Linked DNA regions of Homo sapiens. The protein of the gene in region 1 binds, or shares a complex with, the protein of each later gene. Links are inferred from orthologs where the notes say so. Each region holds a gene or a part of one and is shown in the gene's direction. Other genes may lie near its edges.

What was found. Proteins that work in one complex are often made in the same cells at the same time.
Region 2: the proteins of NEDD4 (region 1) and GJA1 are in contact, whole or in part, in an NMR structure (PDB 2N8T), measured with the Rattus norvegicus proteins. The link is inferred for Homo sapiens from one-to-one orthologs. Residues at the interface, in NP_037118.1 of Rattus norvegicus: Asp416, Asp417, Tyr422, Val424, Asp425, His426, Ser428, Lys429, Thr430, Thr431, Thr432, Trp433; in NP_036699.1 of Rattus norvegicus: Pro277, Leu278, Ser279, Pro280, Met281, Ser282, Pro283, Pro284, Gly285, Tyr286.
Region 3: the proteins of NEDD4 (region 1) and ARRDC3 are in contact, whole or in part, in a crystal structure (PDB 4N7H), measured with the Homo sapiens proteins. Residues at the interface, in NP_001271267.1 of Homo sapiens: Glu847, Arg849, Ala851, Pro852, Phe857, Ile859, Asp860, His861, Lys864, Thr865, Thr866, Thr867, Trp868; in NP_065852.1 of Homo sapiens: Glu344, Ala345, Pro346, Pro347, Ser348, Tyr349, Val352.

What each region holds. Positions count from the first base shown.
Region 1 is NC_000015.10:55,990,505-55,998,210, reverse strand, and holds the start of NEDD4 (E3 ubiquitin-protein ligase NEDD4), read left to right. Parts: upstream 1-4,598; 5' UTR 4,599-4,655; coding exon 4,656-4,700; intron 4,701-6,205; exon of another isoform or gene 6,206-6,285; intron 6,286-7,706. UniProt on the Homo sapiens protein: E3 ubiquitin-protein ligase which accepts ubiquitin from an E2 ubiquitin-conjugating enzyme in the form of a thioester and then directly transfers the ubiquitin to targeted substrates. Specifically ubiquitinates 'Lys-63' in target proteins.
Region 2 is NC_000006.12:121,438,646-121,445,645, forward strand, and holds part of GJA1 (gap junction alpha-1 protein), read left to right. Parts: intron 1-4,971; exon of another isoform or gene 4,972-5,048; intron 5,049-7,000. UniProt on the Homo sapiens protein: Gap junction protein that acts as a regulator of bladder capacity. A gap junction consists of a cluster of closely packed pairs of transmembrane channels, the connexons, through which materials of low MW diffuse from one cell to a neighboring cell.
Region 3 is NC_000005.10:91,368,131-91,373,317, reverse strand, and holds the end of ARRDC3 (arrestin domain-containing protein 3), read left to right. Parts: intron 1-1,861; coding exon 1,862-1,918; 3' UTR 1,919-4,687; downstream 4,688-5,187. UniProt on the Homo sapiens protein: Adapter protein that plays a role in regulating cell-surface expression of adrenergic receptors and probably also other G protein-coupled receptors.

The sequences.
Region 1 (7,706 bases):
TATATATCTGCATCCTATTGGTTCTGTTTCTCTAGGGAACCATAATACAGGGTCTTTAATCTGTCAGTCTGGAACAGTTCCTCCAACTTTCTTGACTTCTATGTCCTTGACACTTTTGAAGATTACAGGGCAGATATTTTGTAGTACGTTCCTTAAATTGGATTTGTTTTCTCATGATTAGATCCAAGTTATGGAGGAAAAGCAATGGGTTGCAAGATTTTGGTTTATCAAATGTTCACTTTGATCATTTGATTAAGGTGGTATATTTCAGCCTTTTAATCTATGTAACTAAGTACTTTCTGGAAATATATGTTGAACCCTGTAAAAATCTCATTTTTCATTGAACTTTGAATGTACTCATTTATTATAATTTATATCTGTAATGAACACATGGTACCAGAATTATTCATTGGATTATAATCTGTTGCTATCATAATTTATTTTAGTGCTCAAGTTAGGCCATCTTTGGCCAGTGGGAGCTTTTTTCAGGTTGGTTCCTGTGTCCTTTTATTCTGTCTCCATCATTACTTTCATTATTTTCTGGGATAACAAGATGTTTCAGGCTCAACTTTTATTTGCCTTGTCCTAGTCCTGGAATCAGCCATTTTTCCAAGGAGCCCTGGTTTCTTTTAGTAAAAAGTTAAAATATGGATGCAAGATATGCTCATTGCTTTTGGGGTGTCATTGTTCCCAGGCCCTCTTAGAATACAAATGTAGAAAATATTTGTGTGTGTGTGTGTGTGTGTGTGTGTGTGTGTGTGTATGCAGCAGAGGTTTACATCTACATTTATTTATATACTATATATATATGTTAAAAACTTTTGAGTTCATATCAACACCACCAATTTCATTATAACAACACAAGACTCATTCAAGTTTTCTCTTTCCATTCTTGTAACTTCTTCAACAGTGACTAATGTGGTTCTCATTATCATTCATATATTCACTTATTGGATCACTTGTCTCTACAAGTAACTAATTTCCCATTTCTGCCATCACCAGTCCACCAAGCAAACCCTTCCTTGAACACACCTGGGTCCCACTGCCTTGCACCTGGCCGTCTTTCTCACTACCTCCCACCCCTTGTGGGGTGAGGAGGGCATTTTAAAAGATGACCATGATACCTGAACTCTCTTCTTTACTCCTTCCTCTGCCTTGTAACCTGGAACATAGACGTAATGATTGAAGCTTGAGCCACTCTCTGGACTATGAGGATAAGGGTCACACCTACAAACATCAGAGCAGTGAGCTGTGAAGTGCCTGAATTTCTGACCCTTTGGCAGAGCAAACTAGCCATATTAACCCTGCCCTGCCCACTGTCTAGACTTTTACATGACAGCCATATAACATGAATCTTTAAATCTTATTAGTTTAGGTAACAGCCAAATGTAATTCTACTTGATAAAGATGTCCACAGCTAGAGGCCAGCGGGAACACAGATACATCTACTAATTCCAGGAGGGAGTGATGAGAACCTTTATCACCAAGATGAGGGAGCACAACAGCCTGTTAGAAGTCAGAATCCAGCTTAGCAAAAAGAGGGTCAGGCAAGACCAATGAATTGATTGGGACTATGTATTCTACTACTGGAGGCAGAAACTTAGTTCATTTCAGAAAATCAAATAAACATTTCTTGCACTACTGAGCTCTGGATCTGAGATGGGCTCTATGAAGAAAGTAGCTGAAACTATGGTAATGGCAATGGCAATGGATGAGGTCCAGGGAGTTTCCAGTGGAAGAAAAAATGAACCTTAAAAATCTCAAACATTAACTATTAGAAAGGAAGCAGCCAGGGGATATTAAGAGTAAGAGAGAATTAAAGGAGAACTTCTGAACAAGACTTTTTTATATCCCTTAGGGAATTAATTACCAACATTAAAGTGCATTTCGTATCATTACCTTTCATATTGTTACATTCCACATCCAATTTTGATCCCAGGGGGTGATATTTTAAAAACTAGAAACAATTTCTGCATCACAGTGAAATCTATAGGCAGAGTTAAAGAGGTTTACGTATACAGACTACTAGAAAGTCTAGACCAGGTTTACTGGTTTTCATTCATTTCTTGCTTCTTAATCAGTTTGGAGGCTCATGTAAAGGCAGATTTGAAGGGAGAAAAGACTCAAGAACAAGAGATAGAAGGGGTGATGCTATTGGAGGTTGCTAGAATTGCCTGGATTTTGGCTTGGGATGATCCCTAGCACAGGTATGAGGCACAGAATCAATTGTTATGCACCATGTCACATTCTTCACACGTGCCTCACATGGTTATACACACACTCAAACCAAATCAACATGAACCTAATTGAAGGCAGCCTAGGTAGACAAAACGCCTTCATGAGAGTTCTGCGCAGTTGAGTGATATGTAGAGGAGTTCTTCATTCTAAACAGCTTTCTCAGTGGTGGTTGGTTATTGGACCACCAGCTGATATCACCATCCCGATTTGAGCTTCCTTTAATTTCAGGTGCCCCTCCTAGCTGTTGACCGGGATACAATAATTACTCTAGTTCATCTTGTATTGGTAGCTGTTTAATTCTTCATGATTTCATATTCGGAAAGACAGAATAAGAAATCATGAGTCAAATCAGTGGTCTTTAGAAGTATCATCACTAATACCTATTGGATACATCAAATGGCCAATTTGCTTTACTTTATAATCCCTTGGGGATTTACTGATTTTTTTTTTTTTAATTACCAGTTTTAGGCTGTGTATACTTCTCATATATTCATTAAATTTTAGTAGCAGTAACGGAAGCTGTTTTTACACGTTTGTAATTGTGCCCTGAAATGACACTGAATTAACTTAAATTCAAATGACTTAACTAACTTAAAATTAAACATAAAAATGTGTATCATGAGAGATGAGGGAAATATTCGCAAAATAGAAGGGCACACAATATTTTCAGATTATTTTATTCTTAACCCACAAATCCCACAGATATGTGACAACTTAAAAAACAAATTAATGCTCTCATGGCTTTTTCGATTTAGGTAAGCCAACAATTCCTGACCATTCTGTAATTTTGTAGTCATGTTTGATTAAGTGCCATCTCTTTCCCCCTAATACGGATAAAATCTGAATTGTGTATTAACAGAATTTTGATACATATTATATGAATGAAATGGATCCTACCAATCATAAAGTACGACAATTGAGGTGGAGTCTTGTTCTGTCGCCCAGGCTGGAGTGCAACGGCGCAATCTTGGCTCACTGTAACCTCCTCCTCCCAAGCTCAAGCGATTCCCTTGCCTCAGCCACCCAAGCAGCTGGGACTCCAGGCGCCCGCCACCACGCCCAGCTAATTTTTGTGTTTTTAGTAGAGACAGGGTTTTACTATGTTGGCCAGGTTGGGCTCGAACTCCTGACCTAAGGTGATTCACCGCCTTAGGTTTCCCAAAGTGCTGGGATTACAGGCGTGAGCCACCGCGCCCGGCCAAGTACGAGAAAAATCTTACGTAACAAACCAGTAATATGGGCTATAGCCTTGTTCCCACGTAGCATCTTAAACTGTTAAAAATAAATCAGAGTTATTCTGAAATCATTGAGGAAAATAAAAATTAGATTTTGAGATTGCAGAATTCTGCAAATTTCTGCAAATGTATAAAAACAACATGATATAAATTGTGGCCTGGGTGTTCATAATTCTCCCCAGACTCTTTTATGGATGCCTTATTTGGTGGAGGTCTTCCTGTAATTATGGAATTATAAAGCCCATCAGACAGGAATATTAAAAAGCATGATTATTCCATAACCTTATTCCACAGGAGGAGTTATTCCACAGGAGGAGTTATTCTACAGGAGGTCCTAGTTCACTTTATTTTTCCCTCTTCGTCACTGCCTTCTGGTGGTGCTGCGGATCAACGCCCAGCTAAAGCAGGTTTAGAGGGTCAGCCTGGAGATTGGATTGTTACTGGTGGGATTTAAAGATGGACAGACCATAGGACAACAAATAGCTTAGGAACTGGCACTGTTTACAAATCCTAGGGAGAGAATTTCAGATCCCGAGTCCAAGACTGCTGCGATCCCTCCAGGCCTCCCCATTTGCTGCCACGCTCAGGCTTTCCCTGGCGGTCCCCAGGTCCAGCTTCTTATGGGAATGACACCCTTAACCGACAAGAAAGCGCTATGATTTTCCGTTTGGGATTTAAGCGGGGATTAAGCTCACGGATTCCCAGGCGTCTAGTCAGAGGCCGAACTCTGGGTCGGATCTCAGCGAGACTTGTTGCTGAGGAACACTGCAGCTTGGCTTCCCGGCGCTTCCCGGCGCTCCCTGGCTCCCCGGCGGGCCCGTCAACCACCCACCTCCCGGGAAGGGACCGAGGGCGCGCCCCGCCACGCGCGCTCCCCACGCCATGGTCCCCGCCGCGCGCGCTCATCCCACCCGAGCCCCGCCGCACGCCCTCCCCACTCCCCGAGCCCCGCCACGCGCGCCCCCGCCCAGCCCCAGGAGCGCGCGCCGCCGGCCTTTTCCCGCCGCGCTGCCGGGTGCCGCTAGTGCCCGCTCGCCGCGGGAGGCGCTGCTGTCGCTGAGGGAGCGCCTCCTCCTCTTCCTCCAACTCTTCCCCGCCTCCTCCCGCTTCTCCTCCTCCTCCTCCACAGTTGCCTGCCCTGGGCGGGGGCGAGCGCGTCCGGTTTGCTGGAAGCGTTCGGAAATGGCAACTTGCGCGGTGGAGGTGTTCGGGCTCCTGGAGGACGAGGTGCGGGGACCGCGGGGCTGCGGGGCGGGCTTCCCTTCGGGTTATTCAGCAGCCGGACCCGGGGAGGTAGCGGCGGCGGCCACGACCGGAGGCTCTGCTGTCAGCCCCTCCTCCCTCGGCGCGAGCCTGGGGAGCGCGCGAGGCGCCGCGGGGACTGTGGGGGCGGCTCGGCGCGCGGGCGCTGGGGGCTCGCTGGAGGGAGCAAGCTTGTCGGGTCCACACCCGCCCCTTCCCGGAGCGGCCGCCGCCTTACTTGTCAGTTTCCTTCAGGAAGTGTTGAGGAGGGGGCTAGGCGGTCGGCGGGGGACCCACATCACCGCGCCAGCCCCTTCCTGCCACCCCCGCCGGGTGTGCGGAGCTCCCAGGCGTTGGGAGACGGTCGCAGCATCCCCGCTGTTGATTTGCTTGCTCTGGCGGAGGCCGGGCCGACTTAACTTTACGGACTTCGGTCTGGAGAGTTCCAAGTGAATTGTCATTCGCTGGTTTGTTTTTTTCTTCTTTATCTGAAATCCTTTTTAATCCCCTAACTAGAGACAGGGATGGGAGAGCAGGAACATAAATTTTCCTCCTCCTCTTTAGCAACAAGTGTCTAGTGTGAGAAGTTCATGCTTTATTTCACCGGTCGTCGTTGATGTTAAAAAGTGAAGCCAAAAAAGTATAAATACTTTATAAAGAAGTTACCACATCTGTTCCCTTTGAAAACTAGATTAAGCTCTGGGATTTGAAGAAGGCAAAGCTGTTTCTTTTCAGCTAAATAACTAATGCTGATTATGCCTATGCTTATTAAAAATATTGTACGACCATTTGGAAAGGTTGTTCCGTCGTAAATGATATGTGGCTTCTGTGTGTTCTTGGAGATTGTCTCAAAAATGCAAATGGGTGGGAGATGAAAAGGCTGCATGTAGTCTAACAGTGACTGGTTCCGAGTGAAAAAAATCAAGTTTTTTGCTTTCTTGTTGGCTGACTAAGCTGCCACATGTACCTTTTATCAAGATGAGACCCAGTTAACTGAAAATCCATCAACCTAATTTATACTGCTTGCTTAAGTATTGTAATATTTAAGTTGTATAGTTCCTTCTCTTAGTACCTTGGTGTCGTCAAACATTTTACACTTCTCTTGAGAGTTCTTTGTTTATAAAGGGTGGGCAATTTGTTAATGCAGTTATTTCAGGATATTTTGAGAATGCTTACGTGATGCGATTAGAATTTAATTTCCTAGCTATTGCTGCCAGAAGAGAAATAAAGTGATGATGGACAAATGGTGGCGGCTCATAGTCCCTCAGAAACAATAGTCAATGTGTTACAGCTAAAGATATCATTCTAGCTAATGGCACCTTTATTCTGTAGACGAGATCAGAAGATAATACAGCACTTCACCTGTGGTCGCTTTCTTATCAGTCAGATTTCCCTGCTTGCTACGTAGACTGCCCAGTGCAGTTGACTTCAAGGTGGTGTCCAACCCAATCAGGCTGACCTTGGACTTTCTTTCCCTGCTATATTCACAGGTAGGCCCTGCTAATTGCAGATTTCTCATCTCACCGCCTTCCAGCAGAGCCAGTTGATCTTAAAGAAAATAGTGCCAAAGGTATCATTCACCATCTGTTTTCTCCCTCTTGGTACATGATCAGTGTTTTTAATTATCTACTTTAGTAATTTCTCTGTTTTCAATCATCACCCCTCTGCCCAGCTGAAATAAAACTAATTGTGGCAGTTAATGGGTGGTCGGTAAGGAACTGGGGCCAAAGGCCAGAAACTCCACCCTTTGAAATGTGGATTTCCTGAACTTGCTGAAGGATTTGTACTTCTAGGAAGTTTCATGGACTGTGGCCTATCCCATTCACATTCTGGGAGTTCTGGCTGTCAGTTCCATGACTCTAATTTGCTTCTGTCCCCGCTCTATTTTGTCCACATTGAGGAAGGGAGTGAGATAGGAAGATAAGAGACATGATGATGAAGAGTCTTCCACTTCTTCCATTGTAATTGGATTATTCATTCAACAGACATTCATTTACTGTTTGCTCTGTACCATGCATTGTGCTAGGCACCAGGGATAGAGAGGGAAAAAAGACAGTCTCAGCCTCGGACTGAGGGAAAGATAAAAGTCACTTTTTTTCTTGTGGAGGTTGCCCTCTCCACTATCATTTGCCATTTATTTTCTGGTCTATCACAAAAGTAAAAGAAGGATTGAAACCACACTCCCCCATCCTCCCCACCCCCAAACACCCCTTTTGTTAAAGGAAGAAAGCATTGCAGCTATGTCACTTCTAAAACTCACAGACTAGTCTGGAAATAGGCAGCCCTCTGCTGTTGATTAAAAGTAAAGTGCTTTTTCATTACAACAAAAGGAGAGGATTCTTATTTTAAATTTGAAACTAAAACAGGGAGAAAAATAATTTGAAATGGGATAGAAGATAGTGAAAGAATTGTAATTTAATCAGTATATAGTGAATAGTCGCTGAGTCAGTGTCTGAGCATATTAGCACTGAAGTATGCTAAAATGTAGATCATAATACCTTTCTCTCACTTTTCAGTGAGTTTTGGCTCTTCTTCCACATATAAGTGACTTATAGTAAGAGATCACCCTGGCTGCATGTGCAGGATTTTACCTTTAAAGTGTTAACAAACAAAGGAGGAAGTGTAGTATAATTTATACCAGATTTGCTCTGGTCACTTGAGATTCACAGTAGAGAATAACATGCACTGATCTTTATTGGAGAGCAGTGTGGTGGATGCGGGGACTGGAATTGAGCATCACTTCCCACCTCCTTCCCATGCACCTCCCTGTGATATGGAGGTGGGAAAACTAAACACTGTTTCCCACACTCCATTGAAATTAATGGACTGGATCCAAAGTAGGCTCCCCAGTTAAGTGCACTTACTTGAGATTTGCAGAGTGGAAATGAGGTGGAGCATATTGTTTTGTTTCTTTGGCTTTTTCTGCTGATAAGCACAGTCATGTAAACATCTAAATTTTCTGCGAAAGTATTCCAGTATCTGGTAACTTGC
Region 2 (7,000 bases), on another chromosome or scaffold:
TTATTTGAAGAGATGTGTGGGAGCTTATCCGCACACACCAGTTCAACTCTGGAGAGAAAAAGTAATTATCTAGTGTTTATTATTAATGTAATATTCTGTATGGATAATTCAAGTTTTAAAAAATCTCCAGAGCATCTCTTCCATGGGAGATTAATGTATATATTTTTTAAATTCTTAGCATAATTGTCTAAACCTCCATCTAAAGTCACCTTTTAACTATGTATGTACAGATTGTCTTTTACCTATTTTCAAACTGTGGTTAGCTCTTTTTTTTTAATACATCAGTGGCTTATACAATTTCATAAATTTCACATTCCAATTTCCCTATGCTTTTAAAATAATATTTTAAGAAAAATATATGTTTATCGTCAGCTGGGCATGATGGCTCATGCCTGTAATCCTAGCCCTTTGAGAGGCTGAGGTGGGAGGATCGCTTGGGGCCAGGAGTTTAAAACCAGCCTGAGCAACATAGCAAGACCCCACCTCTATAAAAAAAAATTTTAAAAAGAAAATGTATGTTTGTCAATCATTTCTTAGTTGCTGTTTTGCTAAAGAAAAGATGAAAAATTTAAAACCAAATGAGCTATATCTAAAGGTCGTCTAAAGAGTAAGAACCAAACTTTACTGAGCTGTTACTAAGAGCATCACATGCATGAGTTATTTATTAAATTCTCATTGAAAAAAATAGACTATCTTAATCAATACACTTGTGAGGGCCCTAAGGGTGTCTTTATATGATTATAAAATAACAAGGCTATTCACTAAAAATAGTCAATTTGGAGGTGGAAGTAAGAGTAGGGGCAGAGGAAACGCCAAGGACTGATAGAAATATATTAAGTTACATCACAATTGAAGAACATGGCTTTTAGCCTCAGCTTCTGACTTGGGATTTTCTCTCTGGTAGCCCTAAATTGATCTTGAGAAACTTGTTTTGGGGGAGAATTGAGTAGTAGCTGTTGAACTAGGGAGAGGATTGTCTTTTATGGGATGCACCATCCTCTCTTTGGATGGAGTTCCTCACACCTCAATTCCCATCTCATCTCATTAAGTGGATGCTAATGTAAGTTCAGTGATGAGGAGGGGTAAGAGCTGGGGAAGGAAGGCTTGTTGGTGTTTTTATGTTGTCCTCCCCTCTGCCCCCAAAATAAGCAGTTCACAACATCAAATACCTACACAAATGTGCAATTATTTATAAATATATTTTTACATACAGTAAGTTTGATACACTATAGTTAGGCCATCTAGGTATAAATAAGGAAGTAAAGGTTGGGTATTATCTGATGAACTGGGAATCTTTTCCATGGTACTTGAATCTAATCACTTTAGTGCCTGCATAGACTCAGACTGTAAAGATGTTACATTAACCAGGGTTAATATCAACTGCTGCTCTTCCCCTTCAGAGCCCTAGCCTTCCCCGATATTTATCATTCTTGAAATAAACACGATTTTAAACAGGCTATTTCTTCTTGTAATAGTGTCCTTGTCTACAATAAAATTGTGTGGTGCAATCGGAGTTAGAACATCGTAGAACTAGGGGACAACCACACAGTTGTGTTTTTTCCTTTTTTTTTTTGTTTTGTGTTTTAAATCTTAACCTGCAACAACCTAACAGTGAACTGAATGTACAAGCATGATACCTGATGCAGTTCTACAAGAATCCTAACCCTCATTAGGATCTCATTTAACAAATTCAGGAAGCTCTTTGTTAAAAAGCCTTTTTTCTTTTTTCTTTTAAGCCTGTCAAATTTAGCAGTGGGGGTTGCAAAGAGCCTTTTTTCTTAATTTAGCTCTTTTGCCTGCTCAGGAATCATTTGAAGCATGTTGTTTCAACAAACAGTTCTCTGTTTCAGCAATTGTCACTTGAAAATTTAACAGTATGAGAATGAGATGATGACAATAGTTTTTTACTGTGAAGTTTCCTTTTTAATTAATTTGAAACTTTAGAAATTTGAGATATAACTACAATTAAGAGAATCCCAAAGAGACAGAAAAAAACAAACTTTTTTTTTTTTTTTGCACAGTATCTTTCTATTTTTTGTGGAAGCCCCATTTAATTCATTTAACATGTAGCTATACCCCAATTAATTAATTCTTTTCTTTTCTTTTCTTTTTTTGAGACGGAGTTTCACTCTATCACCCGGGTTGGAGTGCAGTGGTGTGATCTCTGCTCACTGCAGCCTCCGCCTCCCGGGTTCAAGCAATTCTCCTGCCTCAGCCTCCAGAGTAGCTGGGATTACAGGCACCCGCCACCACGCCTGGCTACTTTTTTGTTGTTGTTGTTGTTGTTGTTGTTGTTGTTTGTCGTTTTTTTCTTTGAGACGGAGTCTCGCTCTGTCGCCCAGGCTGGAGTGCAGTGGCGCGATCCCGGCTCACTGCAAGCTCCGCCTCCCGGGTTCACGCCATTCTCCTGCCTCAGCCTCCCGAGTAGCTGGGACTACAGGTGCCCGCCACCACGCCCGGCTAATTTTTTTGTATTTTTTTTATTTTTAGTAGAGACGGGGTTTCACTGTGTTAGCCAGGATGGTCTCTATCTCCTAACCTCGTGATCCGCCCGCCTCGGCCTCCCAAAGTGCTGGGACTACAGGCTTAAGCCACCGCACCCGGTCTACTTTTTTGTGTTTTTAGTAGAGATGGGATTTCACTATGTTGGCCAGGCTGATCTCAAACTCTTGACCTCAGATGATCCTCCCACCTCGGCCTCCCAAAGTGCTGGAATTACAGGTGTGAGCCACATCTCTTACTCTTTCAAGCACTGGGGATACAGCAGTGAACAAAGCAAACTCCCTCGTATTGTTCACATTCCAGTTAAGGAAGACAAATAATAAATCCTTCTCATGGAAGGAGGTACATAGTAATCAGGCAAATATTTACTATATCAAGTAGAGAGAAAGTCTATTAAAATAATAATTTTTTAAAAACCAGGGCAAAGGGAATAGGAAATGACAGGACTGGGGAAAGGATGTTGCTATTTCATATTTGGTGGTCAGGAAAGTTGGCTGATGAGGTGAGACCTGCAACAAGTGAGGACGTGAGCTGCGTGGATGGAGCAGAGCTCATCAAACCAAGCTGATTGTTGGTTTGTTTTCTCAAGATTGACTGATTACTCGGAGTATAGGTTGGCAAGTAGGGTGACCAGGCTAATGACATGAAACCTAGCAAACTGATGATGGCTGAGATCAAGCTAAGGGTGGCTGTTTTAAGTGCGGAGGAATAGACAACTGAGTTCACTCAATGACATTTACTGGAGGGGCAGAGGTTATTATAAAAGTGAAAGAAAACATTACAAGGGTTTGCATTTGAGTTTTTGGGCATGAATATTTTTGGGTGTTAGTACATTAGACACACACATGATTTCCCTTTCCTCCCAAAAAATCCATTAAATGATTTTATCGGGAACTTCCATAGACATTTCCTTATGTAGGTTTAGACTCTGATTTTATTCTTTCAGATATTAAAGTCCTTCACCTTCTCTTTTCTTTCAATCATAAAAAGATGCTGGATATCAAATTTCACTTTAGTTTTCAATAATCCTATTTACCTTTATTTAAGTCTCCATTCTCAACTCATTACATTTGTCTCTTCTTGAGAAAAATATTTAAAGTCGATAGTAAAATACTTAATTCTAATAACTATTAGTATATTAATGGCATGGAAAGACTTGACTGCAACTTCGGCACATGCTCTAGCAAAAGGCATAGTCAAATGTAATTTAAAATCAAAGCTTTATTTTTAAGAGATCTCATTTGAATTAAAGCGTTTAAGTTCTTCTGCTCTCAGGGAGCTGCAGATGGAGATGTAAGGAGTGACAAGGGGCTGTGGAGCCAAGGCTGACCTCAATGCCGGGTGCCCAGAGAGCTGCTGCTCCTGGTACTCAGCCCCTTGGATTTTTTAGACTGTTCCTTCTGCTTTCCTGACATTTCTCCCACTCCTAAATATTTTGAACAAGAAAGGGCCAGAAATGTCAAGAATAGTAACAAACACCAAAAAAACCTTACTTCCTAGGCCCCACCTCCAGAAATTCAGATTCATTCAGACTGGTGAAGACCAGGAATGTATGTTTTTAACAAATGCTGCCAAGTGACTGTGATGCAGTTCAGGAAAGGGGCCAGAGGAGCCTCAGGCTGGTCACACTTAGTGCCTGTAGCTTTGGGCATCCATCCAGTCTAGGGGGCCATGAAGAGCAATGGAAATGTAATCTAACATGGTGCATAGACGGCAAAAAGCGTGGTCCAGCTGCTAAGACTCTGCTCTTAACAAGAACTTTGCACAACTCCTCTTAGACAGACCTTGGTCTACATATAAAGCACCAACTCAGTATCCTAGAGGTGAAGGCATGAATATATGTGATATGTCCAGCTGCGTTGGTCTTCTCATGTATCAAATAAGAAATATACCTGTTTCCCCCTGGTGAATAAAAGTGCAGTTTATAGTCTGTAGATCAATGCCAGGGATTCTGTAAACATATAATTATGCCCTTTTATTATAAGAGGGTATTAACTTACCATACAAGACTTGGAAAAATGAAGATATTAAACTAGTTTGGGAAGGTGCAGCAGGGAGGAACAACCAGTTGCCAAAATTTGATTCATGGCAAAGTGAGCAACTACCAAAAAAAAAGGGAACAATTTTTGTTACCTGTTTTTGGGCAGCTGTCACATTAAACATTATTTGATGGTATCTATGATAGTGGAGATCGACAGGTAGCTACATGTTACAGGATACTCGGTGTCCAATTCGATAATTCGTATCTTATTAAGATGAAAGAGTATAACTCATTAATGCAAATGACAACTGCATGGGTGCTTAAAGAAAAGACAACTTTGCAATTAAGTTACTAGAGTATTAAAAAAGAACTAATGAAGAGCTGTCTGATGACTTAGTTCACATACTATGGAACTGTGGAGTGTTTTTGTAGAATCTCAAAATTATATGAAAGTCATGTATCATGAATTTTTTTATAGAATGTAAATAAAGACTATACTTTCAGGGATCATTTCTATAGTTTGTTACTAGAATGTAAATAAACTTAGTGATGAATTACTATAAGCATCTACACAATCATATTTTACTTTGAGTAATGATGAAATCCTAGCTAAAATAACTTCTGTTCTGCCTGGTCATATTTCTAGATATGATAGGTTTGTCTTCAGCTCTATCGTTGCATGAATGTGATGAGATGTATGCAAAGTTTATCTTTTTATACTTGATTGTTTTTGTTATTTTTCCCCTAGCAATTGAAATATGTGAGCAAAAGCAGATGACACTGGCAAAATACTGTAATTTTTTACAAACAGAATTAGGGCCAATTTTACACATCATCACATAGAAACTGTCTATTGATATAGCTCCAAAGATTCTGTTTGTCTGACCCTCATGGACTATACTTCTTCATTTCCAGTCTAGTATTTTCTGCTAAATTGTAGGGTTTTTTTTTCTTTCACATTCTCTCACCATCAAACTGTCCATCACGGCTAAATTACTCCCTCACTTCAAGCCTTTCCTTGGCTATTCAACTGTCTTTGTCAGCCTTTCAAGCCTTTGTTCTTATTTGACTGCTGTTTTAAATTGATGCTGTTTTCATACATCAATTTCACTTCCTAACTTGTCACTTCAGAATCTAAAATGACCCTTCCTAAGTAAAAGGGAAGCTCCCTTTCTTATGACCACTGGGGGAGTGTTATTTCTGTGGCCTTCACACCCACCTCCCACTCTTACTCAGCATTCTTTGGCACTAGTCCCTGGGCTGTCATCAAATGTACCCATGATACCGTGGTACCATCTAGCTGGTGCATAGTTTAGCTTTATGGCTCAGCCATCTCTTCTTTGTTCGGTCCAGGAAATCCCAGGTCAGGTGCCCATTTCATTTTTTCTTGTTCTCTATGGCCAGAAGATGCAGTCATTAGACAGAAATGTAATGTTGCTTACTGAGGAAGAAGACTCCCCTGGATTTCATTTACTTCCTACAAGGAGATACAGCTCAATAGTTCAACACCAGAAGAGAAACTCCTTTATATTCAGATAGTGAACATATTTCTAAGAAGCCTAAATAATCCTACCTTTAGATACTCTATTTAGAATTCATTACTAAGCTCCTGCAAAGTCTTAGCTTTGCTTGTTTTTAATTATTAAACAATCTTTGACTAATTTGTCCTTTTCTAAATCCTCCAATTACTACTATGTGCTGAAAATTAGCCTATATTCCCTATGCCTGCCACATCATGTTACTCACTTCTTCCCAGCTTTCAGCCCTGGCTAAGGTTGTGTATATCAAAGCCTGGAAACATTTCTAGCTTTAGCGCAGCCTTACTGTACTTTTAAAACCAGTGTGAGGCATTGAAAAGACTTGCCCGGGGATTGTGAATCTTCTTCTGGCTCTGTCTATAGCTAAATATTTCCTATACCCTGAGAACCTCTGAGAACCTCAATTTTTATCAGCTAAATGGATAATCGGCAATTAGAAGCATAAATTGAACTAGACAACTTTGGGGATTCTTGTTGGTTTCTACTGACTTACATCTTTTTAGTGAGACGGAGTCTCTCTTTGTCACCCAGGCTGGAGTGCAGTGGCGTGATCTCTGCAAGCTCCGCCTCCCGGGTTCAAGCGATTCTCTTGCCTTAGCCTCCCGAGTAGCTGGGACTACAGGCTCCCACCACCACACCTGGCTAATTTCTTGTATTTTTTGTAGAGACGGGGTTTCACCATGTTAGCCAGGATGGTCTGAATCTCCTGACCTCATGATCCACCCGCCTCCCAAAGTGCTTATAGGCGTGAGTGCATTATAGGCGTGAGCCACCACGCCTGGCCAGATCTTTTTCTTATCCTCAGTAATGGAGAAGGCGTGGACTTTAGATAGCTAGATATTGATAAGAAGTTAAATGGGATGTATAGCCTGAGGGTCCAAAGCCCAGTAAGGGAACTTTAAAGTATATAACAATGAAAGATGAAAACCAATCTTTTCTGGCTGGAGAAAACACCCTGAAGTAGGTTTTGTTTGTTTGT
Region 3 (5,187 bases), on another chromosome or scaffold:
CATGATGCTTTTCCAATTGCATATTTTGACATTCTCAGTCATAAGAAATAATGTATTTGTGATAACATCTTAAAACAACATTCCCACATGGTTAGACTATTTTCGTTCATCTCATATTGATGGCAGCTAAGCACTTAAATGTAAATAAAACATGGCCCTTAGGAGAAACCCACAGATTACTGAGGAAAACAAGCTAAGAAGCAAAATATTATGTAATAATGTGATAAAATGCACAGCTCATTTGAGAAGCAGCTTATTAGGTCTTGGGCATCAGGTGGGGCTTCTTGAAAAGGTGACTATTAAGCTGAATTTTGAAGAATGAGTAGTCCTCAAAAGGCAGGAAGAACAGTGTATGTAAAGACAAGGAGTGAGTAGGTGGGGTGTCCAGTAATTTCAGGATATTTCAGAGTGACTTTAGCCACTAGTACACATTTTTAAGGGGTTTTGGAGTTGGTTTTGATACCAAAATAATTCTGTAAATTACTAGAATCAGCTTTTTCTTTTGGTTACTGTAATTTACATAGCTGTTTTACTCTGAAATATTACTCCCAAATTAAACATTAGGGGATTGTTCATCATATTTCTCTTTTTTTTTATTAACACCATAACTGGAAGGGTCAGTTTTCCTTTGGTTGTGATGATATGAGATCTTCTTCATTCATTGATTATAGAATATTCAGAATTATTGATGAGACATAATTTTTTCTATTTATTTTCTAATACATACAATTTCTATTAGATGCTAAAAGTGTTCTGCCACTTGTTACAGATTTTGTCATTACATTTTTACTTGGACATTTCTGTCTTGCTTATTAAGTCAGTCATTTCTGGCTTGATTTGAGGCTTCCTGGCTGTCCAAGGAGGCATTTTAAAAAGAATGACAATCTAAGTATAGTTCACTTTTAAGCAATTTGTGGGAAAATTCTGCCTCCTTTTAAAAAGCACTAAAGATAATTTACAACTTTTAAAACCCTAAAATATGTTCAGGGTGTGATTTAACTAAAAGTTATTTGGCTTTTTTCCTTCAAAAATGTGTTTTACCTAAAGCTTCTGAGGCAATTTGGGTTGTTCCACATTTAGATGCAAGTGGATGGGGTCTCGTCCAAAAGCTCTTTCAGTAAAAAATATATTAAACCCAACAATTTGCTTTTCTATGACCATTCTCTTTGTACTTGAGAAGCAACTTTTCATTAAAAATATGTGCATATAAAAGTCACTCTGAAGATAAAGAAGGTGGGAGGAAACCTCTTGAGTGTTTTGGGTTCAGCAGTTTTATTTCCTGATACACTGCGTTTTTGGCCCTCTGTGGGATTTTACACCCATGAGTTATTACCTCACATAAGCACATTGTTCATGTGAGTAAACAAATTGTTTGCACATTGTATAAACAAAGAGCATTGTTTATACGATTTCATTTTTCCAAAGTCAGAGGAAGCGATGAGTTAACTTTTTTGTAGAAGGATGAAAGGGGTGCTTTACAAAAGAAGATGATTGCTATGAAGATATTCTACGTTGTGTATTTAGGTCTTAATTAAGTACTACTAAAGTACTGAGTAAAAGTCTTCATTCACTGATAAAATTTTACTGTTAATTTTTGTGAAATAGGGGACTATTCAGACATGCCTTTATAAAGCTTGTTAATCTAGTAATTAAATATCAGGTACTGTAGGTACCAACACCCTTTCCTCCCCACATAGCATTTCACGTATGAAAAGAGAATAATTGGATATAATATGCTAACAAGCTGTGTTTGCTCTCTGATTACATTTCTTGACTAGTATTCAGAATTGTAGTCATTTGCTACATTCTTCCTAGACCTCATGAAATAACTCTGTAAACTTTTTTTCTCATTTCTTTCTAGATTGATCCAAATCCTGATCAGTCAGCAGATGATAGACCATCCTGCCCCTCTCGTTGAAGGAACACTTGGTTGAATCAAGTTGATGTGGGTTCCGAACTGTATCTCTTCCGGCTGAGGACAGAGAAGTATCTTGGAGACACGTTTCAGAGGAAGTGGAATTACTTTTGCCCAGAAAAATGGCGAATACATGAAACAACCAGTGATCATGCTTTAGAAGCCTACAGCAACATTCTGAGACTGCTCCAACATGCTTGAAGATCTAAGCTTTTCTCTTTTAAAACTGGCACATACTCAGAGCAGTCTTCTTAGCCTATGGTCGTACGTGTCAAGACATCACGTTGTAAAGAGGGATGATTTCCTTCTTTTGATTTGAAAATTTGCACATGCTCAATGCTTACATTGTGCGGTTCGACGTCACTACAGCTTCTTTTTTTTTTTTTTTTTTTTTCTATTTTTGCCAGACTCTTGATACTCTTAAAACTTGTTTGTGGTCAGCACAACAAGGAACAAAACAAAGCTTTGAAAAAACTTTAACATGAAAAAACGCACTGACATTTTTTTTTATTTAATATAGCCTGGACTTTACCTGCGTATGCACATGCTCAGAATTGTCTACTAGGCTGACTATGTATCACCTCTTCAGCTTGGATCCAATTGTGGATTTATTTACAAACATCAAATGCCTTCAAGCCAATCCTTTTTGCTGTATGTTTTGCAGCCTACTGTAGTAGATACGCAACAGATAATGTGGGAAAAAAAGAGATAAGAGGAGGAAGCTAATAAGAGACTGTCAAGATTGTATACCTTCTTGGTTTCTTTTAAGAATTTGTTGCCTTTCTACTATTACAGCAAAGCAGCATTTTGTTACTGACTGCCTAAAATCACTTAATCTCAGGTGAACGCATCACTTGCCAAACTGTTGGAATGCTATTTGTGTTTTGTTGCACTGTTTTTTTCGTTTGTTTGTTTGTTTATTTGGTTGGCTTTTTGGAGAGGGAAATTTGGAAACGGGACATACACAAAAGTTACACACCCACATTCCCTTTTTATCATGACATACAAGAAGAAACTAGCAGAGCTAAGAATGGAGTGAAGAAAGGCAGTATGGCAGGCACCAGCAAAGAGTTGAGGGCTGTTGCTCTTAAAAATTATTTTTTTTATTATTATTTTGAAAGTATGGAAGTTTTCCATTCACTGGGGAAAGGAGGGAAAAGTGCATTTATTTTTATACAGAGTTACTTAATTACCTCCAAAACACATATGTTGGAAATCGCTTTTGCTGGTGCAAAGTATATTAATGAGCAGGAATACATACATTGAGGTTATGAATAGAGAGCTCAATTTGTACCTTTGCTGTCTTGCTCAAGCTTGGTATGGCATGAAAACTCGACTTTATTCCAAAAGTAACTTCAAAATTTAAAATACTAGAACGTTTGCTGCGATAAATCTTTTGGATTTTTGTGTTTTTCTAATGAGAATACTGTTTTTCATTACCTAAAGAACAATTTGCTAAACATGAGAAATCACTCACTTTGATTATGTATAGATTACATAGGAAGAACAATCACATCAGTAAGTTATAGTTTATATTAAAGGTAATTTTCTGTTGGCTCATAACAAATATACCAGCATTCATGATAGCATTTCAGCATTTTCCAAGGTACCAAGTGTACTTATTTTGTTGTTGTTGTTGTTGTTGTATTTTAGAAGGAATTCAGCTCTGATGTTTTTAAAGAAAACCAGCATCTCTGATGTTGCAACATACGTGTAAAATGGGTGTTACATCTATCCTGCCATTTAACCCCACAGTTAATAAAGTGGCTGAAAATAATAGTAGCTCTGGCTTGGTGCTTGACCTGGTTAAATACTGTCTTAAAGCTCATACAAAACAAATAGGCTTTTCCATAAGTGGCCTTTAAGAAAACATGGAAGACAATTCATGTTTGACAAATGCTGACAGGGTGAAGAAAGCCCAGTGTAAAAATGAATCGCGTTTTAAGTGATTCGGTTAAAGAGTTTGGGCTCCCGTAGCAAACTAATACTAGATAATAAGGAAATGGGGGTGAAATATTTTTTTATTGTTGAATCATTTTGTGAATGTCCCCCTCAAAAAAAGCTAATGGAATATTTGGCATAAAGGGCATTTGGTGGTTTTATTTTTGTTTGAGGGGGATTGTCAGAAAATCCCTTTTCTCTCTTACGTCTAACTGACTAGGGAACAATTGTTGATATGCATAGCATTGGAATACTTGTCATTATATACTCTTACAAATAACACATGAAGCAAGAATGACCAATATTCTGATAATTGGCACTGGATCACAAAATGTGATAAAACTTTAAATGTATAAAACTTTATCAAATAAAGTTTTATTTTCCCCTTTAAAATGTATTTCTTTAGAGGCATTACTTTTTTAAAAATATTGGTCAATTCCTGACATAAGATGTGAGGTTCACAGTTGTATTCCAGTATTCAAGATAGATTCCTGATTTTTCAATTAGGAAAAGTAAAATCCAAAATGTTAGCAAAACAAAGTGCAATATTAAATGTTTGCTTTATAGATTATATTCTATGGCTGTTTGTAATTTCTCTTTTTTTCCTTTTTTATTTGGTGCTGAATATGTCCTTGTAGGCTCTGTTTTAAGAAAACAATATGTGGGAAATGATTTAATTTTTCCTATTGCTCTTCCTTGTGGAAAATAAAGTGTTTTGTTTTTTTCTGTTTTGTATAATTGTTTGGAGATTTATTTGAATCTTGATCATATTAGTAACTCACCATACATGCAAACACATTAAATTAAACTATTAAACTCTATTTTAAGCCATTCTGGGTAAGAATTGTATCTAGGTCTGTACTAAAGAAAATTACTGACCAACTCCTAGGCTAAAGTAGTCCTCCTGTCTCAACCTCCGAAGTAGCTAGGACTACAGGTGCACACCACCACACCCACCTAATTTTCTAATTTTTTTGTAGTCGTGGTCTCACTATGTTACCCAAGCTGATCTCAAACTCGGGCCTCAAGCGATCCTCCCAACTTGGCTTCACAAAGCACTGGGATTACAGGCGTGAGACACCATGTCCAGACTCTAAATTTCAATCTTAAATATGAAGCAAACTTAACCAGGTAAAATAATTCACTTTCAGGCACCAATTCCTTCTCACTGTGTTGTGTTCAAATTACCAGTATTTCAAGAGTACATAAACATAACATAGTTTTTTTTTTTTTTAAGAGAGTGTCTCACTTTGTCACCCAGGCTGCAGTGTAGTGGCAGGATCTCGGCCCACTTCAGCCTTGACTTCCCAGGTTCAAGCAATCCTCCTGCC